Homo sapiens: one gene and its partners. The protein of the gene in region 1 interacts with the protein of each later gene in a biochemical or structural test. Each region holds a gene or a part of one and is shown in the gene's direction. Other genes may lie near its edges.

Evidence for each region.
Region 2: the proteins of GORAB (region 1) and ARF3 form a complex in vitro, tested with the Homo sapiens proteins (one study listed by BioGRID).
Region 3: the proteins of GORAB (region 1) and SCYL1 form a complex in vitro, tested with the Homo sapiens proteins (one study listed by BioGRID).
Region 4: the proteins of GORAB (region 1) and ARF1 form a complex in vitro, tested with the Homo sapiens proteins (one study listed by BioGRID).

Annotation. Positions count from the first base shown.
Region 1 is NC_000001.11:170,542,160-170,549,185, forward strand, and holds part of GORAB (RAB6-interacting golgin), read left to right. Parts: intron 1-331; coding exon 332-433; intron 434-2,545; coding exon 2,546-2,686; coding exon of another isoform or gene 2,687-2,690; exon of another isoform or gene 2,691-3,632; intron 3,633-7,026.
Region 2 is NC_000012.12:48,947,469-48,954,494, reverse strand, and holds part of ARF3 (ADP-ribosylation factor 3), read left to right. Parts: intron 1-7,026.
Region 3 is NC_000011.10:65,528,058-65,535,083, forward strand, and holds part of SCYL1 (N-terminal kinase-like protein), read left to right. Parts: intron 1-2,571; coding exon 2,572-2,730; intron 2,731-3,518; coding exon 3,519-3,626; intron 3,627-4,634; coding exon 4,635-4,748; intron 4,749-7,026. UniProt on the Homo sapiens protein: Regulates COPI-mediated retrograde protein traffic at the interface between the Golgi apparatus and the endoplasmic reticulum. Involved in the maintenance of the Golgi apparatus morphology.
Region 4 is NC_000001.11:228,092,682-228,099,707, forward strand, and holds the end of ARF1 (ADP-ribosylation factor 1), read left to right. Parts: intron 1-4,396; 5' UTR 4,397-4,433; coding exon 4,434-4,581; exon of another isoform or gene 4,582-4,660; coding exon 4,661-4,771; intron 4,772-4,909; coding exon 4,910-5,034; intron 5,035-5,170; coding exon 5,171-5,332; 3' UTR 5,333-6,531; downstream 6,532-7,026. UniProt on the Homo sapiens protein: Small GTPase involved in protein trafficking between different compartments. Modulates vesicle budding and uncoating within the Golgi complex. In its GTP-bound form, triggers the recruitment of coatomer proteins to the Golgi membrane.

The DNA of each region.
Region 1 (7,026 bases):
ATAATTAACTTACACAAATTTCTTTGTACTCCTAAACACATGCCACAGTATTCTGGCTTCCAGTTTGTGGATTCCTAGATTATATATATAATGGATTTCAGAGGTCCAATTTATGTAAGCCTCTTTACTTTAGATCGTAGTCTTTGTTCCCATTAGAGCAAAATAATGAACTGCAGATGGGTTTCTTTTAAGAGGACTTTTGAAAGAACATATACATAAATCTTCTTGATTAAATTTTATACTTAGAGGACTGAGACTGGTAAGGTGTTGGATAGGGTAGCAGTTTCTTTTTCTTTCATAAACTCATTTTTATGCTTTTTTTGCCCCCTAGGCAAGAAAAATCTCGTTGGGAAGTCCTCCAACAAGAACAACGGCTAATGGAAGAGAAAAATAAACGTAAAAAAGCTCTTTTGGCTAAAGCTATTGCAGAAAGGTGAGGCACCTGAACCAGGAGAGGCTGTTTGTAACCTGTAACCAGTTGTGTCATGTGTTATATTTGTTTTCCCATGTCTCTTTTAATAAACTGATATTTTTTCTTCAACCATTACTTTTAAGACTAACTAAACAAATTATGCTTTATAAGTGATACTGAAATACTAGTTATAATTTATTAAAGAGAACTTTTTAAGCATAGAGCATATTAAATTTGTAAATATAGTTGCAGTTTTAAAGACCTTCATTAGTGCTCCCAGTTTTAACCATCTACACATTCATAAGGGAAGCAGTAAATAGCTATCAGTATATGTAAATTAGCAACAAATGCAAGTTTTAATTTTTATGTGGGGAGGCCTTAATCATTTGATGTGTAGAGGAATAAGGTTTTCTACATAAGTGACATACTCCCATGAATCTTAATTGGATTTCCTATGGGCATTTTTCTTAAATAATTTGCCCCGCCTCCACAAGTAGAAGATACATGATATAGTTTAACTTTTTATTGATGACTCAGGGTCATTATTATGAGCACTGTGTGAGATTCAATTTTTCTTTCACCTTCCAGTGTCTATCAGCAGCCCCTTCACATTTACTGCATTGTACCAGCCGCACACAACAACATTCCCATTGGAATCATTCTTCCCATCCCCCACCACTCTTGCTGAGTTTGTAGTTTCTGTCTAATCTCCTGTGGCCTTAGGAAACTAAACTTAGTCAATATATCCATGGTTGTGAATAGTGAAAACTAAATGCAAGGAAGTACATTTTCTTTTTAGACTTCCAGAAAAGTCTGTCAAACTGTTACTGCTTGAAGCTAGAGTATGTGTAGGGGCAGGAGAAGAGGGAAGAAGGTGATGGGTATAAGAGTAGTTCAGAATTTTGTCTGCCAGAGGAGTGAGTGTAGTTGAGAAATGGTGATTTTTCTTTTTCTACTACTGGTACACCTTGATCTTTCTTGAAGCATAGGAAATAATGCAACTCACTGAGTTACTATGTTTCAAAGGAAAAAACCAGCAGATAAAAGAGTAGTGCCCTCTTTTTTTTTTTTTTTGGTAAGTGATTATTTAAAAATAATTAAAGCATTTTAGTAGTCTTCAATTTCTAAGAGATGGGAAGGCTGTTTTCTGTGGTTTTACAAAAAGATGTACAGGCTCAGCAGTTCTTCTCATAAGTGCTTTTGATTTTAGACAGCACCAGTATAAACAGAAGTGTAAGGAAATACAACGTTTGAACTATTAATAAATGGACAATGAAGTACTTGACGTAAAAGAATCATACTGTTAAGTGAAGTTTTGTAGGCAGAAAGGAAGGGTAAATGCCTAAGAGTAGAAATCAAGAGAATGTGCTATGTAACATGGTGGATTTATGTGGGGATTTTTCTTCTTCCTTCACAATGTGTGTGAAAATTTGAAATGAGTGAAATCATGATTAAAGGGTTGCTTTTTTATTTGTTTGTTCCCTTTCTTAAGTATATATTGTACTTGGGAGAGGGGATTGAGAAATTATGAGGTTGGATGTGCTTTTAAATAAGGAAAATGAGTGTTTTGATGTTCAGCTCCATAAAGAATTTTCGTAACTAGTAGTTTTCCTAGAGAACAAGAATCAAAGCAATAAAAGTTTGGGGAAATGGGTCCCAAGAAAGTTAAAACTAAGTGGATGTTCTCAGATATATAAAGAGGTGTGGTTTAGTATAGACATCTATCTGTTCTTAATGTCAGGTAAGTATCAGACAAATGAAAATGGGCTTAGCAAGAGGAAGAATTAAAGACTAGAAATTTGGAAAGCTCTGTTGAATGTTTCAATGTAAAGGGAACACAGATATATTCTTTTAGTGTTTGTTCTCTTTACAGAATGAATATCAATCTAAAATGAACTATTTGCTGAGTTTTTTTAGACTTATTTGTTACTTTATGAAACATGCAAATATAAAATTTCAAAAACTCAAATGTTAACCAGCTTTTACTTTATTTCAATTTTTCTGATTTTTTTCTAACTTTTAAAATATAAATTATAAATGTATATGCAGTATCTTGCTTTTTCACTTACATTGTATATGGACACATGGTTTTAAAATGTTCTTATTTTCCCACTCACATACCTGATTTTCTAGATCCAAAAGAACTCAGGCAGAGACCATGAAACTAAAGCGGATCCAGAAGGAGTTGCAGGCTTTAGATGACATGGTGTCAGCTGACATTGGAATTCTCAGGAACCGGATTGATCAGGCCAGCTTAGACTATTCATACGCTCGGTGAGTTGGGGAAATTGAATCTGAACAAGGAGTATGATTTAATTAATGTTTATTGCCAGCTGTTCCAGGGGCTTTTATGTATATCATCATTGAAGCCTCAAAACAACCCCATTCAGTGCTGTATTTATTCTTCTTTTGTGCTAATTCAAGTGTCTCCTCTTCAGTGAAGTCTTCCTTAACTCTGCCCTACTAGTTAACCTTGTTCGTGTGCCATTAGAGCAGTTCTTGCATTATTTATTTACGTTTTAGTCTTTGCTGCGAAACCCTCAGCTATTTAATGTTTGGAAGTGTTTTTGCTCATCTTTCAGCATCTAGCAAAGTAAATATCTGAGTGGTTTCGCCAAAACTGTTACTCTGACACCAAGTCTGTGTTCTTTCCATTAAAATTTTTGATATCTGATATAGTCCTATAGGATTGAAGTCTAGTCCTCACTTTAGCTTTCATCAGAGTAAGAGGATCTAGTTTAGTTTTTAAAAGCTTATGAATATTTTAAGCATATCCTCTGTCTTGGAAATTTGAAATATTTTCTCTTTTTTTTTCCTTTCAATTATACTCTGTATGAAATGGTTTAATATATGTTTCCTTGGTTTCAACCATTGGCATTTTTTAAAAGAGAAAAAATACCATGGAGTATTTTTAAAATGAACTAACACATGTAATGAATTACATGGACTTTGCAGACAGATAAAAGGGCAAAAAAATATGTCCAATTTCAGGGTTTTCAGCCCTTTCAACATTGCTTTAATCATCCTGGTTTGTCTTTTTTCACAAGGGAATGCTGTGTTAATGACTCAGTTTTCTATCTTACTCTGTTACACTAGAAATGAATCAGAATGCCTCATTAGGCCAGGGTAAACCACAACATCAGAATGTTTATATAACAATTTATTAAAGCGGAAATGCTTGATTGTGGTTTTTAATAAACTGTTGAGTGTTTAAGAAAGAGTCTTGTGGTTGTCCTTGTGACTTTTGTAATTGTTGTTGGACCATATGCTATTAGACTTAGAGTTGTCTTTATTAATTAACTACTTAAAAGAATGCCATCAGTAGCTGATAACCAGAGGTTCCAGGTTTCCATTAATAAGGTCATTAAGGGAGATAACAGAGATTTTATTTAAGATTAAACTAAGCCTTGATTTGTAGCACATTTTATTCTCTGTAACATAAGTTTGCCAGAGGAACATTTTTATGCCTTTGTAGCCTTTTATATGAATAATTCATATTATAAGGTAGAAGTACTAGGTACCTCAGTTGAAATTTGAGGCCGGGCACGGTGGCTCACGCCTGTAATCTCAGCATTTTGGGAGGCCAAGGCAGGTGGATCACGAGGTCAGGAGTTCAAGACCATCCTGGCTAACACGGTGAAACTTCATCTGTACTAAAAATACAAAAAATTAGCTGGGCGTGGTGGTGGGCGCCTATAGTCCCAGCTACTCAGGAGGCTGAAGCAGGAGAATGGCGTGAACCTGGGAGGCGGATCTTGCAGTGAGCCAAGATTGCGCCACTGCACTCCAGCCTGGGCAACAGAGCGAGACTCCGTCTCAAAAAAAAAAAAGAAAGAAAAGTAATTTGATTTTAATTTTGTCCTAGTGGAAACTGGAGAAAGACGCTTTTTCATATTCAGTATTATATAAGAAATGTCATAGTTTTAGCCTTCTAAGAACCACAACAAAGAAGGTGGGATTACTAAAGGAAAAAACATCCTATAGTCTATAAGTATCCTAAATGAAATTTTAGTAAATTTTTAAATCTTTAGTAAGTTACAGATGACAGTTTCTCATGGTACTAATATTGATGTAGTTGAATGTAAGTAGATGTTGTGTGCCACTATTTTTGTTTTTATTTTTAGGTTTTTGAGACGGAGTATCACTCTTATTGCCCAGGCTGGAGTGCAGTGGTGCGATTTTGGCTCACTGCAACCTCCGCCTCCCAGATTCAAGCGATCCTCCTGCCTCAGCCTCCTGAGTAGCCCAACTATAGGTGCCCACCACCACACCTGGCTAATTTTTTGTATTTTTAATAGAGATGGGGTTTCACCATGTTGGCCAGGCTGGTCTCCAACTCTTGACCTCAGGTGATCCGCCTGCCTCAGCCTCCCAAAGTTCTGGGATTACAGGTGTGAGCCACCACGCCTGGCCATGTGCTGCTATTTTCAAAAGCCGAAGCTCTTGCGTTGAGTCAAAGGGAAACAAAGACTTTGGTGACTAGAACCGTAGTGTGTCTTGTTCATGCGTAAGATTAAGGTATTATTTTCTAAACTTGCATTTGTGGTTATTGAGAAATTACAGATCGGTAAAATAATATTATGGTCCAGATTTGAAGTGAAAGATAATCCCTAGGACAGTCAGTTTTTATGGGAGATTTCCTTGTTTTTTCTTTTTTTAATAAAAATGATATCTTAGTTCTATAGTATTTGGTACAGTGCTATGTCCACAAAAGGTTCTTGGATAGTGAATAGGCCAGAACTTGCTTTAAAATTGGCTTCTGTAGAGCAGTGTTTGGATAGACACCTCTGAGAAGACTAGCACTTTGAGCCAATTTGAGAGAGTTGCTGCTGCTGCTGCTGCTACTGCTGCTACTGCTGCTACTGCTGCTACTGCTGCTACTGCTACTACTGCTACTGTTCACCACTGGGATTACAATGTTGCCATATGCTGTGCAGACCAGTTTATAAAATCCAGAGTGGCTGCATGTAGAACATTTTTTTAAATCACTATTGACCATCTAGGTTTCATAGACACCCTCATACATGCAAACATACACCCACAGACGAATATTTTTAAATCACTTTATGAGTAATTTTTAAAAGTAAGATTAAAAGGGATTGTGTAAAACAACTTTAAAATTTTAATAAGAATGTAAGCATGGTAACCATCTTTGTATCAAGTAATGTTTGACTCACAAACATAAAAAGCTGAGAGAGTATAGTTACATCCTTGTAGCAACACAAGATAGTCTAGATACTTGTAAAATATTGGGTGTATGTTCTCCCTGCTGAAATGATTAACTCTATGATAAAATCATTTTTCCTTTCTATGCTTAGAAATATATTTTTTACTGACTGATTCTTAAGTTTGAGAAAATTCACCTAGGATATGTTTTGCTGAAGACTCATCTGAGATTTCACATATGATCGATTTTATCATCTAGACTCTAGAATGTGTCTCTGCATTTGTATTAGTTTCCTAAGACTACCATAAGAAGTAATCCAAACTGGGTGACTTAAAACAACAGAAATTACTTCTCTTTCATTTCTGGAGGCCACATATCCAAAATCAAGGTGTCAGATTTGTGATTTCTTCAGAGACTCTAGGTATCCATTTCTTGCCTCTTCCAGCTTCTGGTGGCTGTGGGCATCCCTTGGCTTGTGGCCACGCCATGCCATTCTGTGCCTCCATAGTTATGTTGCTTTTTCTTCTCTCTCTAAACTTCCTCTGCCTTTCTCTTAAAAAGATGCATGTGATTACACTTAGGGTCCAGCTGGATAATCTGGAATAAACTCCTCAAAACCTTTATCTTAATCACATCTTTTTCCATATAAGATAATTTTCACTCATTTGTCATAGAAAGTAATATTCACAGGTCCCAGGAATTAGAAAGTGAATATCTTTGGGAGGCCATTTTTTAGCCTACCACACCATTCATCTTTTGATTTCTTTAACAGTGGCAAGATGTCTTCCTCTGTCAGTTGTCTCCACTTTGCAAATACTGGATAGGCAGAAAATGAAAACTAAAAACAGGTTACAAAAATGGTGTTTTCAGTCTTCTTTTATACTTTCTGGAGGTGACATGATACTTTGTACAGCACAGTAAAGAAGCTCAACAATGATAAGTTATTGCATCATCCTTTCAGATCATTTTCTTATTTTAATTTCTTTTTATTACAAAAGGGAATAATTGATAAGTAATGATGAAATAATTCCTAGGATGATGAAATGGCAAAATGTTTCAAGATACAGGAAATATAAAAATACTGCAATAATCCTATAATATATCTTAGATTTATGAAAGGGTTCTTTGGACCTCTCTGGTAATTGCAAAATATAATTTATTTTATTCTGTTTTTTTAAATAAGTAAATTTTCTCATTATTTGAAAGACTTAAGAAAAGATAAAAATTATGAAATGCTAATTTATACAAATAGTGAGAACTGCTCAGAAAAGGAACTGAAAAACTAAAAGTGGACCCGTGGAACCCAGTGGTATACTGAGGGTTAATGGTTGAGTTTTTAAACATTTCAGGGGATACCAAAACAAAGAGACAATTTCTAGAATCCTTTAAAAATAACATTCATTAATTCATTCCATCCCCCTTTAAAATAACAAAACAGTTCTATAAT
Region 2 (7,026 bases), on another chromosome or scaffold:
AAAGCACCTGGTATTGTACAAAGCATATAGTAAGTACCAAATAACTGTTAGCTGCTATTAATAATCCATTATCATAATCCTAATAATATGAACACTCAGGGCTGCCTTAGAGGAAAAGAGGTTTACAGAAGAACAACTTGCTGCCTGAGGTGCTTGTGTAGAGGGATGATTGTTACCATGAGTTTCTGTGCTGGTCGTAGGCTTATGAGCAGCGAAATCTTTTTTCAGCTTCAGCATCAGCATCGCAGAGACAGCTCCTGCTGCCTGAGTGGGAGGTGAAGCTGGAGCAAGGCAGGGGCCCTGAACCATCAATTTGGATGTAGGGTGAAGATATGGGGGCACAAGAATAGTATTCATATTAGAAAAGTCAGTGTGACTCTGAGATAATGGTTCACTCTTCCAGAAAAGAGCACCCTGATGACCTAGGTCAGGGATTTAGATTCCTAGATGCCCTTATTTTAGGTCTCAGTCAGTATATGGGGATCTTCATTTAGTCCACTCTTTTCATTTAGTCCAATCTTAATAAAAAATGTCTGCTTTTGAGTATCTGTTTCAGAATATCATGGCCTAGAAATTGTGATATCTGTAGAATTATCTGTCTACCGTACCTTCTTCACTTGAACATCTGTTGCAAATATAGATAGAGTGCTAATAAAACTATTTGATAATGAAAAGACATGAGGAGCGTTTGGAAAGGGTCCCACAGATGTTTGAAGGTTTCATATTATAGTCTGGTAAAGAACTGACTAAAGTAGGGATTTCATGAATGTGTTAGAGCTTTACCATGGACTTATGCAAAGGATCTGCCACACCATGTGGACCAGAAAGGAAATGGCTCAGAATGTTAGAGATCCACCATTATTACCATATTCCTGAAGAAAGTTGAGATGACTGGGTGTGGCAGGTCTCTTGGTACCTTTTAGTTCTCCCATTACTGCTGAAAGCCTGGCATAATCCTTCCTTTATTAGCTTATGCACAGGAGTGTCAAGCGTGAATGCTTAAACTTCAGCATGAGCTTAAGATGTAGGAGAGCATTTGCTCTCTGTTGCAATGGTTTATGTCCTTTTTTTAAAAAAAAAATAGTCAAACCTTAAATAAAATTTTATTTGAATTCTAATACATAAAATGGACAAAAGTGGAGTTACTCTCTACTGGTGGTGGAAAATGGGGGTGGGGTATAATTACAGCCCCTCACATGATCTCTCCTCTCTTCAAGCAGAACCTGTGGGCTCTGAGGACATGGAAACCATTTCTTCAGTTTGTCAGATACAGGGAAAAGGATCAGAGACCACCTATAGAATACAGTCTTCTTCAACCCCACAAGTGTTTTGCCACCCTCAGTAGAACCGTTCTCAACACGCCTGTCAGTCACTAGCTATAGGTCAGTCATTGGTGCTGGATGCTGGAGACGTGAAATATGAATAAGGCATAGTCTGTGCTGGCAAAGAGCTCACAGTCTAGTGAGGTACTTTCCAGCCTTTTTCTCATCATGGTATACACAAAAAATGGTAATAGTGAGACTTGAAATCTGAGATGGCTGGCCCAAGGGCTGTAGCCACCCCAAGCCCTGCCCAGCCATCCAGTGGCTGATAGGATCAGTATCTCCAGCTGACCTGTAATGCACTAGAGGCACATTGGGCAGTTGCAGCTCTGGAAAGCAAAACAGACAAACGTGAATACTGCAGCAAGTCCTAGAGTAGAAGTGTGTTTGGGATGCCGAGGGATCGCAGGTAACTCTTATTCCCTAAGTAGGCAGTTCTCTGTTCCTCTGTGTCCTTAGGCTGCTCTGTATAATGGTTGGCCTTGTCCACATCATGTCTTCCTGTTTAAGCAGTTTACTGTCAGCTCCATCTTGACTTGCACAATGGGACCAGATTAGGGGCAGAAGATTATTAGGAGTCTAGGCTATTGATGGACTTTCAGTGATTTTGTGATTAGGAATTTATAGTGTTCTGGATATCCAAGACTGTAGAGGTGGGCATTGGATTGGTACAGCCATAGAATATCAGGAGCTGTAGTGGTTGTAAGCTGGTCAGATTCTAAGAACAAGGCAAGCTGTAATTTTTGGGCAGAGGGCAGTACCACAGAATGTTCCAAAGAAACAAATGAGTCTAGTTTTTATCTTGTCACTGTTTTATCTGACTAGGATTCTAAAACAGACCTTGTCATCTTTTCTGACTCACTTGCTAAGGGTTGTCTGTGGTAAAAGCCAGACCCTTCCCAGGCGTTTTGGGTCTCCATCAGACAGGGCGGTTCGGGATCCTTCTTCACTTCACAGCTGTGGCGTCCTTCAGGTTTGCGTGTCCTGGAGTCTTTTCCAGGATTGTTCTTTGCCTAGATGGGAAGCTGGCATAACAATTCTGGCCTGAGCCTAAACACCACTAATTGAGCTAATAGGAACTTATTTAGTTAGGTACGTTTTAGTTTACACCAAAACTCTAGCTTTGGATCCTCCCTCTTTTCTTTTGTATGTTCTATCCCCATTGGTGTCTATGATGTCTTGCTCTCTTGATTTCCCTTCTGCCTCTCTGGTTGCTTCTTATTCTTTCCTGGCCTGCTTTTCTGCCCGCTATTTTATTTATTTATTTATTTATTTTAATTAGTTTTTTTTTTTGAGACGGAGTTTCGCTCTTGTTGCCCAGCCTGGAGTGCAATGGCACGATCTTGGCTCACAGCAGCCTCCACCTCGCAGGTTCAAACCATTCTCCTGCCTCAGCTTATGGAGTAGCTGGGATTACAGGCGTGCGCCACCACGCCTGGCTAATTTAGTACTTTTAGTAGAGACAGGGTTTCTCCATGTTGGTTAGGCTGGTCTCGAACTCCCGATCTCAGGTGACCCGCCCGCCTTGGCCTTCCAATGTGCTGGGATTATAGGCATGAGCCACCGCGCCCGGCCTATTTATTATTTATTTATTTATTTATTTATTTTTGTGATGGAGTTGCGTTCTTGTCACCGAGGCTGGAGTGCAATGGTGCAATCTCAGCTCGCTGCAACCTTCGTCCACCACCTGGCTTCAAGCAGTCCTCCAGTCTTGCCTCCTGAGTAGCCGGGATTACAGGAATGCCCCACCATGCCCAGCTAATTTTGTATTTTTAGTAGAGATGGGGTCTCACCATGTTGGCCAGGCTGGTCTCAAACCCCTGACCTCAGGTGATCCGCCCACCTTGGCCTCCCAAAGTGCTGGGATTATAGCTATGAGCCACCGCGCCTGGCTCCCACTACTTTAAATGTTGAAATGTCAGGCAGGTTTCTGCCTTTGCCCTTTTCTTCTATCCCACTGTGTACACTATCCCTAGATATATCAGTTAGGATGTATTAGTTGCAAAAATAGAAAACACACGTGTCTAAAACGCTGAGAGGATTTATTAAATCATATAGCAAGACATCTAGTAGAAAGGCAGACATAGGCCGGGTGCAGTGGCTCACGCCTGTAATCCCAGCACTTTGAGAGGCTGAGGCAGGTGGATCACTTGAGGTCAGGAGTTCGAGACCAGCCTGACCAACATGGTGAGACCCTGTCTCTACTAAATACAAAAAATTAGCCGGGCGTGGTGGCAGGTGCCTGTAATCGCCCAGCTACTTGAGAGGCTGAGGCAGGAGAATCGGTTGAACCCAGGAGATGGAGGTTGCAGTGAGCCGAGATTGCGCCATTGCACTCTAGCCTGGGCAACAAGAGCAAAAACTCCGTCTCAAAAAAAAAACAAAAAGGCAGACACAGAAGAACACATATTGTACAATTTTACTTCTATGAAGTACCTAGAGTAACAGATTCATAGAGACAGGAGAATGGTGGTTGCCAGGGGCTGGAGGGACAGGGGGATTGGGGATCCTCTGTTTAACAGGTACAGTTTCAGTTTGGGAAGATTAAAAAGTTGAGGTGATGAATAGTTGTGATAGTTACACTACAGTGTGAATGTACTTAACGCTACTGAATTGTATACTTAAAAAAATGGTTAGAATGGTAAATTTTGTGTATATTTTACTATGATTTAAAAAAAAAGAAGCCAGTCGGGTACAGTGGCTCATGCCTGTAATCCCAGAACTTTGGGAAGCCGAGGTGGGCGGATCACTTGAGCCCAGGAGTTTGAGACTAGCCTGGGCAACATGGCGAAACTTCAGTTAAACAAAAATTAGCCAGGCGTGGTGGTGCATGCCTGTAGTCCCAGCTACTCCAGAGGCTGAAGTGGGAGGATTGCTCGAGCCTGGGAGGTGGAGGCTGCAGTGAGCCACTATCACGCCACTGCACTCCAGCTTGGGTGACAGAGCAAGACCCATCTCAGAAAACGAAAGATGCCAGGCGTGGTGGTGCATGCCTATAGTCCCAGTTACTCAGGATTGCGTGAGCCCAAGAATTTGAGGCTGTAGCGCACCATGAGGGCACCTGTGAATAGCCATTGTATTTCATCGTGGGCAACATAGTGGGACCCCATCTCTAAAAAAGAAAAAGTTTAGTTTACCAGCTTGATACTGTAATTAAGGACCCAACTGAGTTTTTCCCATTTTTCTGCTCTGACATCCTGGAGTTTTTAATGTCTGTCTCCCTCTCTTTATGGTCTCCAGATTATTCTAGCTTCTCATCCTTCTACATCATCAACATCCAAAGGCTGGACAAGAGAACATTGCCATAGGTCCTTTTCTAAGATTGAGGGGCCAGGCACAATGGCTCATGCCTGTCATCTCAGTACTTTGGGAGGCTGAGGTGGGAGGACTGCTTGAGGTCAGGAGTTCGAGACCAGCCTGGGTAACATAGCAAGACCTTGTCTCTACAAAAAAACTTTAAAAATTAGCCAGGCATGGTGATGCACACCTGTAGTTCTAGCTACTTGGGAGGTTGAGGTGGGAGGATCTCTTGAGCCCAGGAGATGGAGGCTGCAGTGAGCCATGATCATGCCACTGCACTCTAGTCTGAGTGGTAGAGTGAGACTCTGTTTCTAAAAACAACAGTAATAATAAAAACAAACATGTTCAGGCCAGGTGCAGTGGCTCATGCCTGTAATCCCAGCACTTTGGGAGGCCGAGGTGGGTGGATCATGAGGTCAAGAGATCGAGACCATTCTGGCCAACATGGTGAAACCCCGTCTCTACTAAAAATACAAAAAATTAGCTGGGTGTAGTGGCGGGCGCCTGTAGTCCCAGCTACTCGGGAGGCTGAGGCAGGAGAATGGTGTGAACCCGGGAGGCAGAGCTTGCAGTGAGCCGAGATCGCGCCACTGCACTGCAACCCGGGCGACAGAGCGAGACTCTGTCTCAGACAACAACAACAACAAACAAACAAACATACATATTCACCTTCAGATCTGTTCCTCTTGTATTTTCTTTCTGAAGAAATGCCACCCAGCCCTAGGCCAGAAACCTGGGAATCATCTTTGATTATTCTACTCTTCTGCGTACATTTAAGCACTCATTAAATCCTGTGGATTCTACCATTTTGATGTTTCAAATCTGTCCTCTTCTCTCTATCTCCACTTGTAGTTGACAACTTGCGATTTCTCACCTGTATTACTATACCTCCTAAGCAGTGTCTGTGCCTCCAGTCTTTCCCCTTTCTAATTTACTCCTGAAACTTCTAAAGCACATACCTGATCACGTTACTCAGCATGGCCTTTAAAGCCCTTCATGATCCAGTCCCTGCTTATCTCTCCAGCCCCATCCCTCATCATTTTCTTTCTTTCTTTTTTTTTTGAGACCGAGTCTCACTCTGTCACCTAAGCTGGAGTGCAGTGATGTGATCTTGGCTCACTGCAACCCCTGCTTCCTGGGTTCAAGCAATTCTCCTGCCTCAGCACCCTGAGTAGCTGGGATTGCAGGCCCACACCATCACACCCGGCTAATTTTTCTATTTTTAGTAGAGACGGGGTTTTACCATGTTGGCCAGGCTGATCTTGATCTTCTGACCTTGTGATCCGCCCACCTCGGCCTCCCAAAGTGCTGGGATTACAGGCGTGAGCTACCACACCTTGCCTGTACTCTTCACTTTAGGAGGCTGAGACTGGAGGATCGTTTGAAGTCAGAAGTTCGAGACCAACCTGGTCAACAAAGTGAGACTCTATCTCTACCAAAAATAAAAATAAAAAAGTTAGCTGCGTCACGATGATTTGGGCCCGTAGGTCTTTTTAGCTACTGGGGAAGCTGAGGCAGTAGGATTGTTTGAGCCCAGGATTTGGATGCTGCAGTGAGCCTGGGTGACAGAGTGAGACCTCATCTCTTTAAAAAAAAAAAAAAGATTATATAAATTTTTTTAAAGTGCTATCTGAAACTTAGGTCTTTTTTTCTTTTTCTTTTTTTTGAGACATATTCTCTCACTCTGTCACCTGGGCTGGAGTGCAGTGGCGTGATCATGGCTCACTGCAGCCACAACTTCCTGGGCTCAGGTGATTCTCTTGTCTCAGCCTCCTGAGTAGTTGGGACTACAGGCGTGCACCACCACACCCAGCTTTTTTTTTTTTTTTTGTAGCGATGGGCTTTTGCCATGTTGCCCAGGCTGGCCTTGAACTCCTGGCCTCAGGCAATCTTCTTGCATCAGCCTCCCAAAGTGCTGGGATTACAGGTGTGTCCTGCTGTGCCTGGCTCAGTCTTTATGCCTTTGCACACACTTCCCCTGCCCAACTCCCTCTTTATTGTCTGATTACTTCCTCGTCTTCCTTTAGGAGCCAGCTCAGGTATGACCTGAGAATTAGGTTTCAGAATCACCCTTTACCCTTCAGTGTTGATTTACTGCTCCAGCTTTCTGTTCACATAATACTATGTGCTTTACTCTTACTCTCACACTGTTTTGTAGTCCTGTCTTCACTAGTCTTTTCCATTAAAGACTGAGTTTCATGAAGGCAGAAACTGTCTCCCTCTCTGTATCCCTAGTTCAGTATGCCCAATAAATGTTTGATGAATGAGGCCAGGCACGGTGGCCCACGCCTGTAATCCCAGCACTTTGGGGGGCAGAGGTGGGCAGATCACAAGGTCAGGAGATCAAGACCATCCTGGTTAACATGGTGAAATCCTGTCTCTACTAAAAATGCAAAAAATTAGC
Region 3 (7,026 bases), on another chromosome or scaffold:
GATCACTGTCCTCAAGAATCTAGCAAAAAGTAAACAGACCAGATCCCCAACCTTGGGAACTCTTGCTGGGGAAGAGACAGAAAACATAAAAACCATAAATAAGAGCCAGGTGCAGTGGCTCACGCCTGTAATCCCAGCACTTTGGGAGGCTGAGGCGGGTGGATCACCTGAGGTCGGGAGTTCGATACCAGCTGACGACATGGAGAAACCCCATCTCTACTAAAAGTACAAAAATTAGCCGGGAGTGGTGGCACATGCCTGTAATCCCGGCTACTCAGGAAGGCTGGGGCAGGAAAATCGCTTGAACCTGGGAGGTGGAGGTTGCAGTGAGCCAAGATTGTGCCATTGCATTCTAGCCTGGGCAACAAGAGCAAATCTCCGTCTCAAAACAAACAAAAGAACACCATAAATAAGAAAACCAGCCAGTGCGGTGGCTCCCGCCTGTAAACCCAGCACTTTGGGAGGCCGGGGCTGGCGGATTATTTGAGGTCAGGAGTTTGAGACCAGCCTGACCAACATGGAGAAACCCCGTCTCTACTAAAAATACAAAAAACTAGCCAGGCATGGTGGCGCATACCTGTAATCCCAGCTACTCCAGAGGCTGAGGCGGGAGAATAGCTTGAACCTGGGAGGCAGGAGGTTGCAGTGAGCCGAGATCGCACCATTGCACTCCAGCCTGGGCAACAAGAGCAAAACTCAGTCTTAAAAAAAAAGAAAAGAAAAATCCAGTGCAGGAAGGAAAGTACTGGAGTGGGTATTCAGGGATGGGCTCTCTGAAGTGTGACATTGGAGCTGGGGCCTGAAGGACATGACTGTGGGAGCCAGAGGGATGGTACCTGGAGTAAGAGTTCCAGGCAGAGGCGACAGCACGTGGAGAGATACTGAGGAGGGAGCCCTCTGCTTTGCCTCTGAACCTTGGTTTCCACATGTGTATAGTGAGGAGCATCTGGGTGCACTGGCCTGCAGGGTTGCTGTAGGGAGGAGGGAGGAAGGCTCTGCTCTATGCAATGCCCGGCCCCAGCCGTGTGTGGGGAAGACAGCGGGGGCTGAGAATCAGAATCAGGAGCAGGGGAGGAGAGTGGCAGACACTCCACAGACCCTGACCCAGCAGAGGTCATGGAATCTTGACTCAGATGCTGTGGGGCGGGGAGGGCCTTTGGAGGGTGGAAACCTGGAAGGAGAAGCTGCTGGAAACGCTGAGACCCCGTTGCCTCCTGGGCAGTGTCGGGGCAGCAGGAACTTTGTTACGTGGAGTTCTCCTCGTACGGCTGGCTCTGCCAAGCTACCCTTCTCCTTAAAGTGTACCCCATAGGAAATAGGGTTTCGGGAGCCTCCAGGAGAACATGGGAGGGCAGTGCCCAGGGGCCCCTCTTCCCATTGTTAGGTGGAGTGGTGGGGAGAACCCAGCTGCTACTCTCTTGATGTATGACCTTGGATGTGATTTAGCCTCTCTGGGCCTTGGCCCCGCTGAACCATGTGATCAGAGCACCAAGCCGGCCTCCCACGCTGGTCTGAGCTGCTCAAGGGCCATCTAGGTCCTCTTTGTCCCAAGCCAGAGGTCGCCTCTCCCCGGCCAAGCCGCGGCTATGGGGGTGGTGGTACAACAGAGAGCACAGGGACTTTGGAACACAACACTGGGTCATGACCCCTGCCTGGCCACTCTTGGCTGCTGACCTTGACCCTCTGTCTCCTCCTTTGTGAATGGGGGGAGTGACAGCATCTTTTGAAGGGTACAGCACAGGAGAGGTGCCAAACCAGTGAGTCAGACCCTCCTCTGACCGCTTCTTAGCTGTGTGACTTTGGACAAGCTCCTTGCCCTCTCTGTGCCTCAGCTTCCTTGTTGGTAAAATGTGGATTACATTAGCACCTACCTGGTAAAGTTGTGAAGAGGACTGAGATAATCTGTGTAAAGGTTTTAGCACATAATCTGTGCTCCAGAAATATGAATTGGGGGTATTATGGCCTCAAAGGGGGGTTAGGAGGACTAAAGGAGACCGTTGAGCTTACAGGCTGGTCCATTTTGGCTCAGTGGGAGGATGAGGTCTGGGAGTAAAGTGTACCTAATCCTTGCCTTCCCACGGCCTACCAGGAACTTCCTGCCCAATCCAGCCAGGGCAGGGAAACCAAGTAAGCCCCTTCACCTCTTTGATCTTCAGTTTCCTCCTCTGTGCTCACATCCTGGGTGGCGAGCAGTAGAGGCAACACTGATAAAGGGCCTGATGCCCTTAGTGATGCCTCTGCTGTCCCTAGTGGCTGCTCTCCCAGCAACAGGTCAGGTAGCCGCAATGGCAGCAACAGTCCCTAACCCACCGAGCATCTGCCGTGTGCCAGCCTGTTCTGCAGCTTTTATGTGCATTTTCTGGTTGAATCCCAGAACTATCCCGTAGATGGTAGAGCTGTTATCCCATTTTACATGGCAGGTAAGTGGGACAGTTGGGCTTTGAACCCAGGCAGCCAGGCTCCAGAGCCCATAAGGCCCATAAGCATCACTTCTCCTTGTCCTCACCCATGGCTGGGTTTGGGCTGCAACCAGGCTGATCTCTTCCCCGGGTCCCGTCCTCACTCCCCCAGATCAAAGAGCCAGCCGAGAAGCAAAAATTCTTCCAGGAGCTGAGCAAGAGCCTGGACGCATTCCCTGAGGATTTCTGTCGGCACAAGGTGCTGCCCCAGCTGCTGACCGCCTTCGAGTTCGGCAATGCTGGGGCCGTTGTCCTCACGCCCCTCTTCAAGGTGAGTGGAACTGTGGGGTCCAGAAGGCTGGCTGGGTGCACAGGAACTGCCAAAGAGAAGGCCCTGGGGTAGGGCAGGCTGTTTAGGGCAGACCCAAGCCCATATGAGCAGGAGCTTCCTGCCAGTGTCTATAAACAGGTACCTGACCAGCTGTCCCCTGGGGAGGAGAGACTCTGCCGCTAAAATCCTTTTTTCCACAAACCTCTGGCTTCACAACCCTCAGCCCTTCCTCCATTTCTCCGGGTCTGACCTGTGCACCTTGGTTCCCAGGGCCCAGGGGATTACCTACTCACCACCCCACTTTGCCCTCCTCCCTCCTGACTGCTTAGCACTCAGCTCACCTGACTTCTGGGGGCTGGATCTTCCACCCTTTCCTCAGACCCCAGCCCGCCTTTTTATGGGCACCTGGCATTCCCTGCCCTCCTCACCTTGGGGAGAACCCTTTCATCTGAAAGACTTGTCAGGAGGGGAGAAGACAACAAGCAAGTCCTGTATAGCTGAGAACCCCCAGAAATTGCAGGCAGAATTTCTGCATATGGCATAAAGGTACCTGTTTGTAGGGAGGGGCCCAGAGCTTTCATCAGCCTCCTGAAAGAGGCCTTGGCCCAGAAAGGTTAAGGGCAAGGCTGAGATGGAATATGGGTAGAGGAGCTACTGAGGAAATGCCTGCCCCCCCCTCCGCCATCACTTCATTCCCACCCTGGGATATCAGCCCCAGGAATTTAGATAAGCCCAGCAAAGTCAGCCCATTCCTGTGAGCAGCTGAACCCATCTTCCTGCCCTTTCAGGTGGGCAAGTTCCTGAGCGCTGAGGAGTATCAGCAGAAGATCATCCCTGTGGTGGTCAAGATGTTCTCATCCACTGACCGGGCCATGCGCATCCGCCTCCTGCAGCAGGTGAGGCCTCTGTACCAGACTCTGTGGTGGTCCACCCAGACCCCAACCTGGTGGCTGGGGAGGCACCTGCCCTGGCTGCACAGGGACCCCAGAAACCCCACCCCTGAACATACACACAACTGAGGGACCCAATGAGGCCAGGCTCTCAGAAAGTTGGCCACATACAGGGCTCCTTGGCAGTTTTGGGAATGGCCAGCTTGCCCAGGCTGCAGCGCTCTAATGCCCCCTCCTCTCCTGGCTCAGTCACTCTGGCCCTCTAGAGTGGGGATACAGTCTTTCTCCTGCAACCCCAGGGCAGCTGGGAGCATCAGACAAGATGGATGGGATCTAGGAAGTACCAGTGGCTCCCAGTGCCATTCCCTCTGTGACCACCAAACACACCAGTCCTCCTCGTGGCACTGTGGGCAGGTGGGGAGGAGCAGGGAAGGGGTGATACCCTCATTTATAGAAGAGGCTCAGGCTGGGCGCAGTGGCTCATGCCTGTAATCCCAGCACTTTGGGAGGGCCGAGGCAGGCAGATCACCTGAGGTCAGGAGTTTAAGACCAGCCTGGCCAACTTGGCGAAACCCCGTCTCTACTAAAAATACAAAAATTAGCCAGGTGCGGTGGTGGGTGCCTGTAATCCCAGCTGCTCAGGAGGCTGAGGCAGGAGAATTGCTTGAACCTGGGAGGCAGAGGTTTCAGTGAGCTGAGATTGCGCCACTGCACTCCAGCCTCGGTGACAGAGCAAGACTCTGTCTCAGAAAAAAAAAAAAAAAAAAAATAGAAGAGGCTCTGAGAGGGTGGCCAGATGAGCCGGACTATGAGCCAGGCCTTCCTAGCGCCCTCCTGGCCTTTCCTCACTCCTCCACCTGGGCCTGAGGCCAAACACCTGGGTGGTGGCTCAGGAGGTTGACCTGGCTGGCCAGTGCCTGCTGGGTGGAAAAGCTAAGCCAGGAGCGGTTCCATGGCTATGGGGATAGAGTGGGAAGGGCTGACCATGTTGACGCATCCCAACCTGGGCCACAGATGGAGCAGTTCATCCAGTACCTTGACGAGCCAACAGTCAACACCCAGATCTTCCCCCACGTCGTACATGGCTTCCTGGACACCAACCCTGCCATCCGGGAGCAGACGGTCAAGGTGGGTGTGGCCAGGCCCAGAGTGGCTACCCCTGGTTTTCCAAGGCTTGGAGGGGCTCACCCTAGACACAGAGGCCTTGGCTTTGGCCCATGGGTCCAAGCAGACACTGTCCTTGCTGTGTGGGTTCAGGCCGTGGGTGCAGCTCGGCAGCTGGCGGGGGAGCACGTCCTCCATTCAGCAGACAACGAGCATCTGCCTGTTCCTGGCCCAAGCCCCATGCTGGGAGGCAGCATGCATGAGGTGCCCAGCCCCCTGCACTCATGGAGCTTCCTTTCCAGGGCACAGAGGGTGGGCTTGCCAGACAATACAACAGAATTAGAAAATATGTATTGTTGGCTGGTCACGGTGGCTCACGCCCATAATCCCTGCACTTTGGGAGGCTGAGGCAAGCGGATCACCTGAGGTCAGGAGTTCGAGACCAGCCTGACCAACATGGCGAAGCCCTGTCTCTACTAAAAAGTACAAAACCATCTGGGGATGGTGGCGCATGCCTGTAATCCCAGCTACTCGGGAGGCTGAGGCAGGAGACTCAATTGAACCTGGGAGGCAGAGGTTGCAGTGAGCCGAGATCATGCCGTTGCACTCCAGCATGGGCAACAAGAGGGAAACTCTGTTTCAAAAAAAGAAAGAAAATATGCATTGTTGGAAAGTGTGGGGAGAAGAGTTTGTGGTTTTAAAAACAGTGGTCAGGGGCTGGGCGCAGTGGCTTACGCCTGTGATCCCAGCACTTTGGTAGGCCGAGGTGGGAGGATCGCTTGAGCCCAGGAGTTGGAGACCAGCCTGGTCATCATGGCCAAACCCCATCTCTACAAAAAAATACAAAAGTTAGGCGCGTATGGTGATGCACGCCTATAGTCCCAGCTACTCGGGAGGCTGAGGCAGGTAGGTAGCTTGAGCCCAGGAGGTTGAGGCTGCATTGAGCTGTGATCGTGACACTGCATTCCAGCCTGGGCAACAGAGTGAGACCTCATCTCAAAATTTAAGAAATTATTTTAGGCCGGGCCTGGTGGCCCATGCCTGTAATCCCAGCACTTTGGGAGGCCGAGGCGGGTGGATCACCTGAGGCGATGGGAGTTTGAGACCAGCCTGGCCAACATGGTAAAACATGGTAAAACCCCATCTCTACTAAAAATACAAAAAATGGCTGGGCCCGGTTGCTCACACCTGTAATCCCAGACTTTGGGAGGCTGAGGTGGGCGGATCACAAGGGCAGGAGATCAAGACCATCCTGGCTAACATGGTGAAACCCCGTCTCTACTAAAAGTACAAAAACAATCTAGCCGGGCATGGTGGTGGGCGCCTGTGGTCCCAGCTACTTGGGAGGCTGAGGCAGGAGAATGGTGTGAACCTCGGAGATGGAGCTTGCAGTGAGCCGATATCGCGCCACTGCACTCCAGCCTGGGCAACAGAGCAAGACTCCGTCTCAAAAAAATAAAATAAAATAAAAATTAAAAAAATTAGCCAGGCATGGTGGTGGGCGCCTGTAATCCTAGCCACTCAGGAGGCTGAGGCAGGAGAATTGCTTGAACCCAGGAGGCAGAGGTTGCAGTGAGTAGAGATCACACCACTGCACTCCAGCCTGGGTGACAGAGTGAGACTCTATCTCAGAAACAAAAAAGATACGGAGACGAGAGTGGCTCTGAGGCTTGTGGCCTGAGCAACTGGAAGGTTAGGAGTTGCTATTTACTGAGATGACACAAGCATGTTGGGCCCCATCTTGGCTGTTTCTGTTAGGCAGCTGGATGGAGATGTCGAGTTGGCCACTGGTTATGCATGTGTGAAATTTAGGGAAGTCTGGGCTAGGGGTATGTGCCTGGGGGTTGTCAGCTCACAAGATGGCATTGAAAGCCATGAAATGGCTGAGATCACCTAGGGCAAGAGTGTTAGATAGAAAAGAGCCCTCTAGATTGGCTCCGGGTGTGTGAACGTTAGAGTCTCAGCAAAAGGAGCAGCCAGCCAGGTCAGAGGAGAACCAGGAGGGGGTGGTGTCCTGGAAGACCAGAGACCAAAGTTTCAGGGAGGGAAAACTCAGGGGTGTCAGAACTGCTGAGGGTCAAGTTTGGTGAGGATGGAGAACTGGCTGTTGAAATTAGTACCGGGGAGGGCATCAGTGACCTCACCCTGAGCCAGTTTGGCAGAGTGTGGGGCTGTTTGTGTGAGTCTAGGTGGAGTGCCATCAGGAGAGCAGAGCAGAGGAAATGGGAAACAGGAGTGCAGACAGACTTTGGAGGTTTTGCTGTAAAGGGGGACAGAAATGGGGTCCCTTTCTTCAACATGC
Region 4 (7,026 bases), about 58 Mb from region 1:
TGCGCCTGTTCCCTTCCCTGACTCATGCCAAAGTATCCCTGAGATCTGCAAGGGACCGAGGACAGTACTGGCTGGTGGTCTGGGTACAGGCCACAGAGGCATCTGGACCCCATGTGCATCTGGACCAGTTTGGTTGGATCCATTCATGGACACAAAACGGATGTGAACTCACAGAGCTACATTTTCTCCCTGCCCCTGTTCAGGCACAGTGAGGTGTCGGGGAATGTAGCTGCCAGAGTTGACTGTCCCGTTCTTTGGTGTAATGCCTGAAGGCCACCTTTACCATTGGTCTGTGGTCCTCACTGAAGAAAGAAACATTCTTCCTAAAAGACTTTTTTTCCTCAGAGTTGGAGCCCACAGCGTGGTCAGGAAAGAGAAGTAGCCACTGGTGGCTCCTGGCATCCTCCTGCTGGGCAGCCCCTTCTCAAAGTGTGAGGGGTCCCCTTGTGTACAAGCAGGAAGGCTCTGAGAAAGTCAGGTTTGCTCCTACCACAGGATAATTCCGATGAACCTGAAAAGCGGGTTTTGGCTTGTGTGCAGGGACTCTGGTGGAAGAAAGGGTGACAGCACCTGGCCTGGGCATGACACAAGTTAGGACCCGTACCAAGAGGCCCTGGAATTGAGGGTGGGGGTTGCTGTGGACTCTTTCTCCCTCTTAGGAAACTCTATTGGGTCTCCATCTGTCACAGAAGCAGTAAATGATGTAGGGGCTGCCAGGTATAGGGTCCTGTGGGGATGCTGGAACATGCCGAGGCAGGACGTGCCAGCCACCCTCTGCCCATATGTGCAGCAGGGCCACAGATGTGCTTGTCGGTAGGAGAGACCAAGCTGTCTGTGTGCCGATGTCTTGACACCTGAGACTTCAGGTTCACCCATCCTGGTTCTGCCATTCCATTGCAGGGTGGCTTCCCTCCTTTGGGGACTCTTAACGCTTTGGTCTGTTAAAAAAAAAAAAAAAAATCCGGGCGTGGTGGCTCACTCCTGTAATCCCAGCACTTTGGGAGGCCGAGGTGGGCTGATCATCTGAGGTCAGGGGTTCGAGGCCAGCCCTGACCAACATGGTGAAACCCCGTCTCTACTAAAAATAAAAATAAAAATTAGCTCAGCGTGGTGGCACGCGCCTGTAGTCCCAGCTACTCGGGAAGCTGAGGCAAGAGAATCTCGAACCTGGGAGGCAGAGGTTGCAGTGAGCCGAGATCGCACCTGAGAGGTTGCAGTGAGCTGAGATCAAGCCACTGCACTCCAGCCTGGATGACAGAGTGAGACTCTGTCTCAAAAAAAAAAAAAAAAAAAAAAGCCACCAATGGGGAGGGCCTGGGATTACTGGCATCACAAACCCCACTGCCTGCAGGCTGCATGATCTCCTGGGCATGGTTGGCGGCACTGCCCCGGGCATGAGGAGGCAGCAGGCATGTGTGGATCACGGACAGTGCTGGGGTCGAGGGGGTTGGTGACGGTGTGACACCCCTTCCCCTGAGTGGCTGGGTGTTACTGTCAATTCTCCCAAGTGCTGTGCTTCAGTGGTCGTGGCAGTCTGGTGCTGCCTCTGCCCAACTGGCAGGCGACCCTTATTCCTGAGTCCCTGCTGACTTGGTGTCCTAGGTTTATTCCTCCTAGACTTGTTAACTTGTACAGTTAACAAGCCTTTGACACCACACACCCTCGCCTCAGCTTTCCAACCCCCTAGTAATAACAACATCAGGACTCCCTGAGTATCCTCCACCATATGTTTTCCTGGAGTAACTCATAAAAGGCCCTCTTTTCGTTCCATTTCATGCTTGGGTTTTTCATGCGAACCTGTCATTATTAGTTTTTCCGCATTGCCTAGAGTTGCCCAACCCCATAATAAGAATACGTAGGTGGCGTGCCCCATTCTTGCAGGTGTCCACTTCCTGCTCCAGTCTGAGGGGGTTGGCTAGGCTGCTGCTCTCTCTCCATGTGGGGTTGGCTAGGCTGCTGCTCTCTCTCCACGTTGCTGTGGGCTCGCATCCTCTCCCTGGTTCCCTGGGGGAGCTTCTTAGGGAGGGAGCATGTGAGAGATCTGAGGCCCTGCAGTTTGGGAGTTATTTTCATTCTCCCCTAACACTTGTTGGATACTTTGGCTGGGTATAGAATTAAAGGGTTTCGAAAGCAGTGTTTCAGAGTCTTCCATTCTCTGGGGCATCAGAGGTGTCATTTGCCCCTGTGCATTCTGGAGTCCACCTTGCACCTTTATTGGGTCTCATCTAGGTCCTTGGCTTTGCGCTTCAGCCCTTTGAGGCCGAAGCCCAGATTCCTGGGTCCCCACTCTGGAACAGGGAAAAATTTCACCCCGTAATTTCGTACGTTCTTTCTTTTTAGGGTTTCTGTTGGTTGATATCTTAAGTTACTCCTCATCTTCCTTTTTCATTCTGTTTGTTTTTGTTCTGCCTTCTGAGCACCTTCATTTTGAATTTTCCTTTTCAGCTATTTGTGTATCTATCAGGTTTCTCTCCTTGTCCTTTGTTAAAATAGTATTCTGTCTTCAGTCTCCTGTCTTGGTTGCCTCCTTGCAGATTCCTTTTATATTTGGGTCTCTTATGTTGGTGGCCTTTCAAAGGCAGACAGGCCTGTCTCTTGGTGGGGGGTGGGGGTGGGCGGAGCTCCAGTTGCTTGTGTGTGGATCTGCTGGGGCATATAGAACTCTCAGGAATTATTCTGGAATTTCATGGCTCAAGTGTGTTGTCATGGCTCAGCGCAGGCCTAAGCCCTGCTGCAGCTGCTCCCCTAGACCAAGCTTGTCCAACCCTTAGGCCGCATGTGGCCCAGGATGGCTTTGAACCCGACCCAACACAAATTTCTAATAAAACATTGAGATTTTGGGGGTTTTTGTTTTGGTTTGGTTCACCAGCTGTTGTGTTAGTATATTTTGTGTGTGGTCCAAGACAATTCTTCTTCCATTGTGGCCCAGGGTAGCCAAGATTGGACATTGCTGCCCTAGGCAGTCCCAGCTTCATCCCTTGGGTCCCAGGCGGTCCAGTTTTCTCTGCCTGGTCAATCATCACATCCAAGGTCTTCCTCCCTTTTCTCTCTGCCCTTCAAGGCGTGTGTGTCATTTTGGTGTCTTCATTGGTAGTGGTTGCAGGAGTGGACTGAGAGGGCAGGTATTCAGTCTCTTCTGTGCTCCATGGGTGGTGGTCTTCCTCTGGGCTTAGAAAACCTGGCCGTCCCCAAAAAGGGAACACTACAGTGAAGGTCCTTATAAATTTCAGAACTCATTTAAATTTCAGAATAGGTGACATGTTCAAAACCAAGAGCAAAGTGTCCAAAGGACACTGATCCAGCTTGAAGGGGTTCTGTGGCTCATCTGGGATGATGGCAGTGTTAAATCAGACACGGGCGGCCAGTTCACACCCACTGAAACACACAGGCATGTGTGGGCTCTTGCTGATGTTGAGAAATGGAGAAGAGGCATTTCCTTGCCGTAGCGTGCTGGGGTGACTGGATGAGAGAGTCACCAGCGGACAGTCATGGCTGTGATTCAGCCAAAAGCCACCTGTGTGTGGAACCCCTGGTGGAGGAGGTCTGATGAGGGGTGGGTGTGCTCACAGGCTCCTGGCATGTCCTCTTGAAGGCAGAAGCCTTCCTCACTCGGGGTAAGCCCCGCTTGCGGGTGCAGTGAAGAAGCAGTCATTGTTTCAGAAAGTGACCAGTGTTTTCTAAAGTCCCTGTTCGGGATAAAATCACCTGATTCGTGAAATTGCCCACTGGCCAGTGAGGCCAAAGCCTAACAACTTCAGTGTCCTCACAGAGGCGTCTGGGCAGTGGAGGCCCTTCCTGCTGGAGTCTCCGCAGGGCTCTGATGGTGGGTGCCAGCTGACTTAATTGCTGTCCCCGATATTTGTGTTCTGCTGAGGGAACCCCTACCCTTGCGGTGTGGGGCAGACATGGCGGGCGTGCCCCATCGAGGCTGTGTCCTCATGGGAGTGTGTCCCTGAAGGTGTCCTGCTGAGTCTGGCGTGGCCCTGTGTGCTCTGGTCCTTGTGAGTGTGGGCAGGCACAGTGAGTGGTGCTCTCTGGCCCTGGAAGGTTCTGTGTTGGGGTGTAGAGGAGCCTTGCACGCACCTGGAAGCCAGTCCTCAGGCAGCCAGCCTCCCCTCCTGCATAGGCTGGGATGAGGCAGCCTTTCTGGCCATGCAGCTGTGGGGACAGCTTCCCAAGATGAGGGCAACAGTTTCTCAATTCCTGACTCAGCCATTTTCCCTCAGCCCCCATCCTGAGGTGGATTTGGGGGGCATGGGAGGCAGGGCTCTTTCCCTGTTTCCCTGCAGGCTTCCAGGAGGTGGGGTGAGGCAGTGGTGCATCCCTGGGTGGGTGGGTTCTGAGCAACCACTGCTGGGCAGCACAGAACCAGACATGGAGCACCTTGTCTCTCCAGGTGTCCCTGGCCAGTGTCCTTCCACCTGTCCACAAGCATGGGGAACATCTTCGCCAACCTCTTCAAGGGCCTTTTTGGCAAAAAAGAAATGCGCATCCTCATGGTGGGCCTGGATGCTGCAGGGAAGACCACGATCCTCTACAAGCTTAAGCTGGGTGAGATCGTGACCACCATTCCCACCATAGGTGAGGTGGGGGCCAGCAGGGAGTGGGCTGGGCTGGGCTGGGCCAAGGTACAAGGCCTCACCCTGCATCCCGCACCCAGGCTTCAACGTGGAAACCGTGGAGTACAAGAACATCAGCTTCACTGTGTGGGACGTGGGTGGCCAGGACAAGATCCGGCCCCTGTGGCGCCACTACTTCCAGAACACACAAGGTAAGTGGCTGGGGCCTGGTCCCATGGGCACTCCTGCTTCTAGAGAGGGGGGGCCAGCCCATAGATGGGGCATCGATGCCCATAGATGCGGCAGGGGGGCTGTGTTCCCATGACCATTTGACACTGGCTGCCCGGCAGGCCTGATCTTCGTGGTGGACAGCAATGACAGAGAGCGTGTGAACGAGGCCCGTGAGGAGCTCATGAGGATGCTGGCCGAGGACGAGCTCCGGGATGCTGTCCTCCTGGTGTTCGCCAACAAGCAGGTAGGCGCCCGGGCCAGCCTGGGGAATGTGAGGAGCCAGTGTGGGTTCCGCCTGGTGGTAGGGGTTACTGGAGGCTGGTGGGGCCCCTTTCTCTGTCCTGTGGACAGCCCTTCCCACCAACCCTTCCTTCCCCCAGGACCTCCCCAACGCCATGAATGCGGCCGAGATCACAGACAAGCTGGGGCTGCACTCACTACGCCACAGGAACTGGTACATTCAGGCCACCTGCGCCACCAGCGGCGACGGGCTCTATGAAGGACTGGACTGGCTGTCCAATCAGCTCCGGAACCAGAAGTGAACGCGACCCCCCTCCCTCTCACTCCTCTTGCCCTCTGCTTTACTCTCATGTGGCAAACGTGCGGCTCGTGGTGTGAGTGCCAGAAGCTGCCTCCGTGGTTTGGTCACCGTGTGCATCGCACCGTGCTGTAAATGTGGCAGACGCAGCCTGCGGCCAGGCTTTTTATTTAATGTAAATAGTTTTTGTTTCCAATGAGGCAGTTTCTGGTACTCCTATGCAATATTACTCAGCTTTTTTTATTGTAAAAAGAAAAATCAACTCACTGTTCAGTGCTGAGAGGGGATGTAGGCCCATGGGCACCTGGCCTCCAGGAGTCGCTGTGTTGGGAGAGCCGGCCACGCCCTTGGCTTTAGAGCTGTGTTGAAATCCATTTTGGTGGTTGGTTTTTAACCCAAACTCAGTGCATTTTTTAAAATAGTTAAGAATCCAAGTCGAGAACACTTGAACACACAGAAGGGAGACCCCGCCTAGCATAGATTTGCAGTTACGGCCTGGATGCCAGTCGCCAGCCCAGCTGTTCCCCTCGGGAACATGAGGTGGTGGTGGCGCAGCAGACTGCGATCAATTCTGCATGGTCACAGTAGAGATCCCCGCAACTCGCTTGTCCTTGGGTCACCCTGCATTCCATAGCCATGTGCTTGTCCCTGTGCTCCCACGGTTCCCAGGGGCCAGGCTGGGAGCCCACAGCCACCCCACTATGCCGCAGGCCGCCCTACCCACCTTCAGGCAGCCTATGGGACGCAGGGCCCCATCTGTCCCTCGGTCGCCGTGTGGCCAGAGTGGGTCCGTCGTCCCCAACACTCGTGCTCGCTCAGACACTTTGGCAGGATGTCTGGGGCCTCACCAGCAGGAGCGCGTGCAAGCCGGGCAGGCGGTCCACCTAGACCCACAGCCCCTCGGGAGCACCCCACCTCTGTGTGTGATGTAGCTTTCTCTCCCTCAGCCTGCAAGGGTCCGATTTGCCATCGAAAAAGACAACCTCTACTTTTTTCTTTTGTATTTTGATAAACACTGAAGCTGGAGCTGTTAAATTTATCTTGGGGAAACCTCAGAACTGGTCTATTTGGTGTCGTGGAACCTCTTACTGCTTTCAATACACGATTAGTAATCAACTGTTTTGTATACTTGTTTTCAGTTTTCATTTCGACAAACAAGCACTGTAATTATAGCTATTAGAATAAAATCTCTTAACTATTTCACCGGCTCTCCAGTGCTTCCACACAGGCATGCTGCCCCCAGGAGATGGTGGGTGCATCAGCCAGCTTTACTCTAGGAAGTACAGGTGACTGCCTAGGGCCGCCACCTCAGTCCACACCCTCCCCATGTTCCCTCCTGAGTGTGCAGGCACTTCTCTGTGTCTGTGTGAGAGGCTCTTCCAGCATGGTTGCCCACAGTGACCTTGATCTCGTTTGCAGTCCTGTCGGGCCCAGCCAATGAGACCTGGGCCATACAGGGCAGGGGTCAGCAGGCACCATGGAAGACCTCAGCCTCCGTCCTTCCCTCCATCGGCCTGCTGCTGAACCCCACTTTGTATAGCTGGCTATGGGGCAGGGCCACTGCTAGCATACATAGGGCTTTGTGCCAACCAGGGAATGGTCCCTGCCTGAGTGGGCACAGCCCCCACCTCTCCTCAAGATGCCATGCAGCAGGGGGCTGCCAGTCTGGGGGTACCTGTTTCTGGGATGGGGCCATCA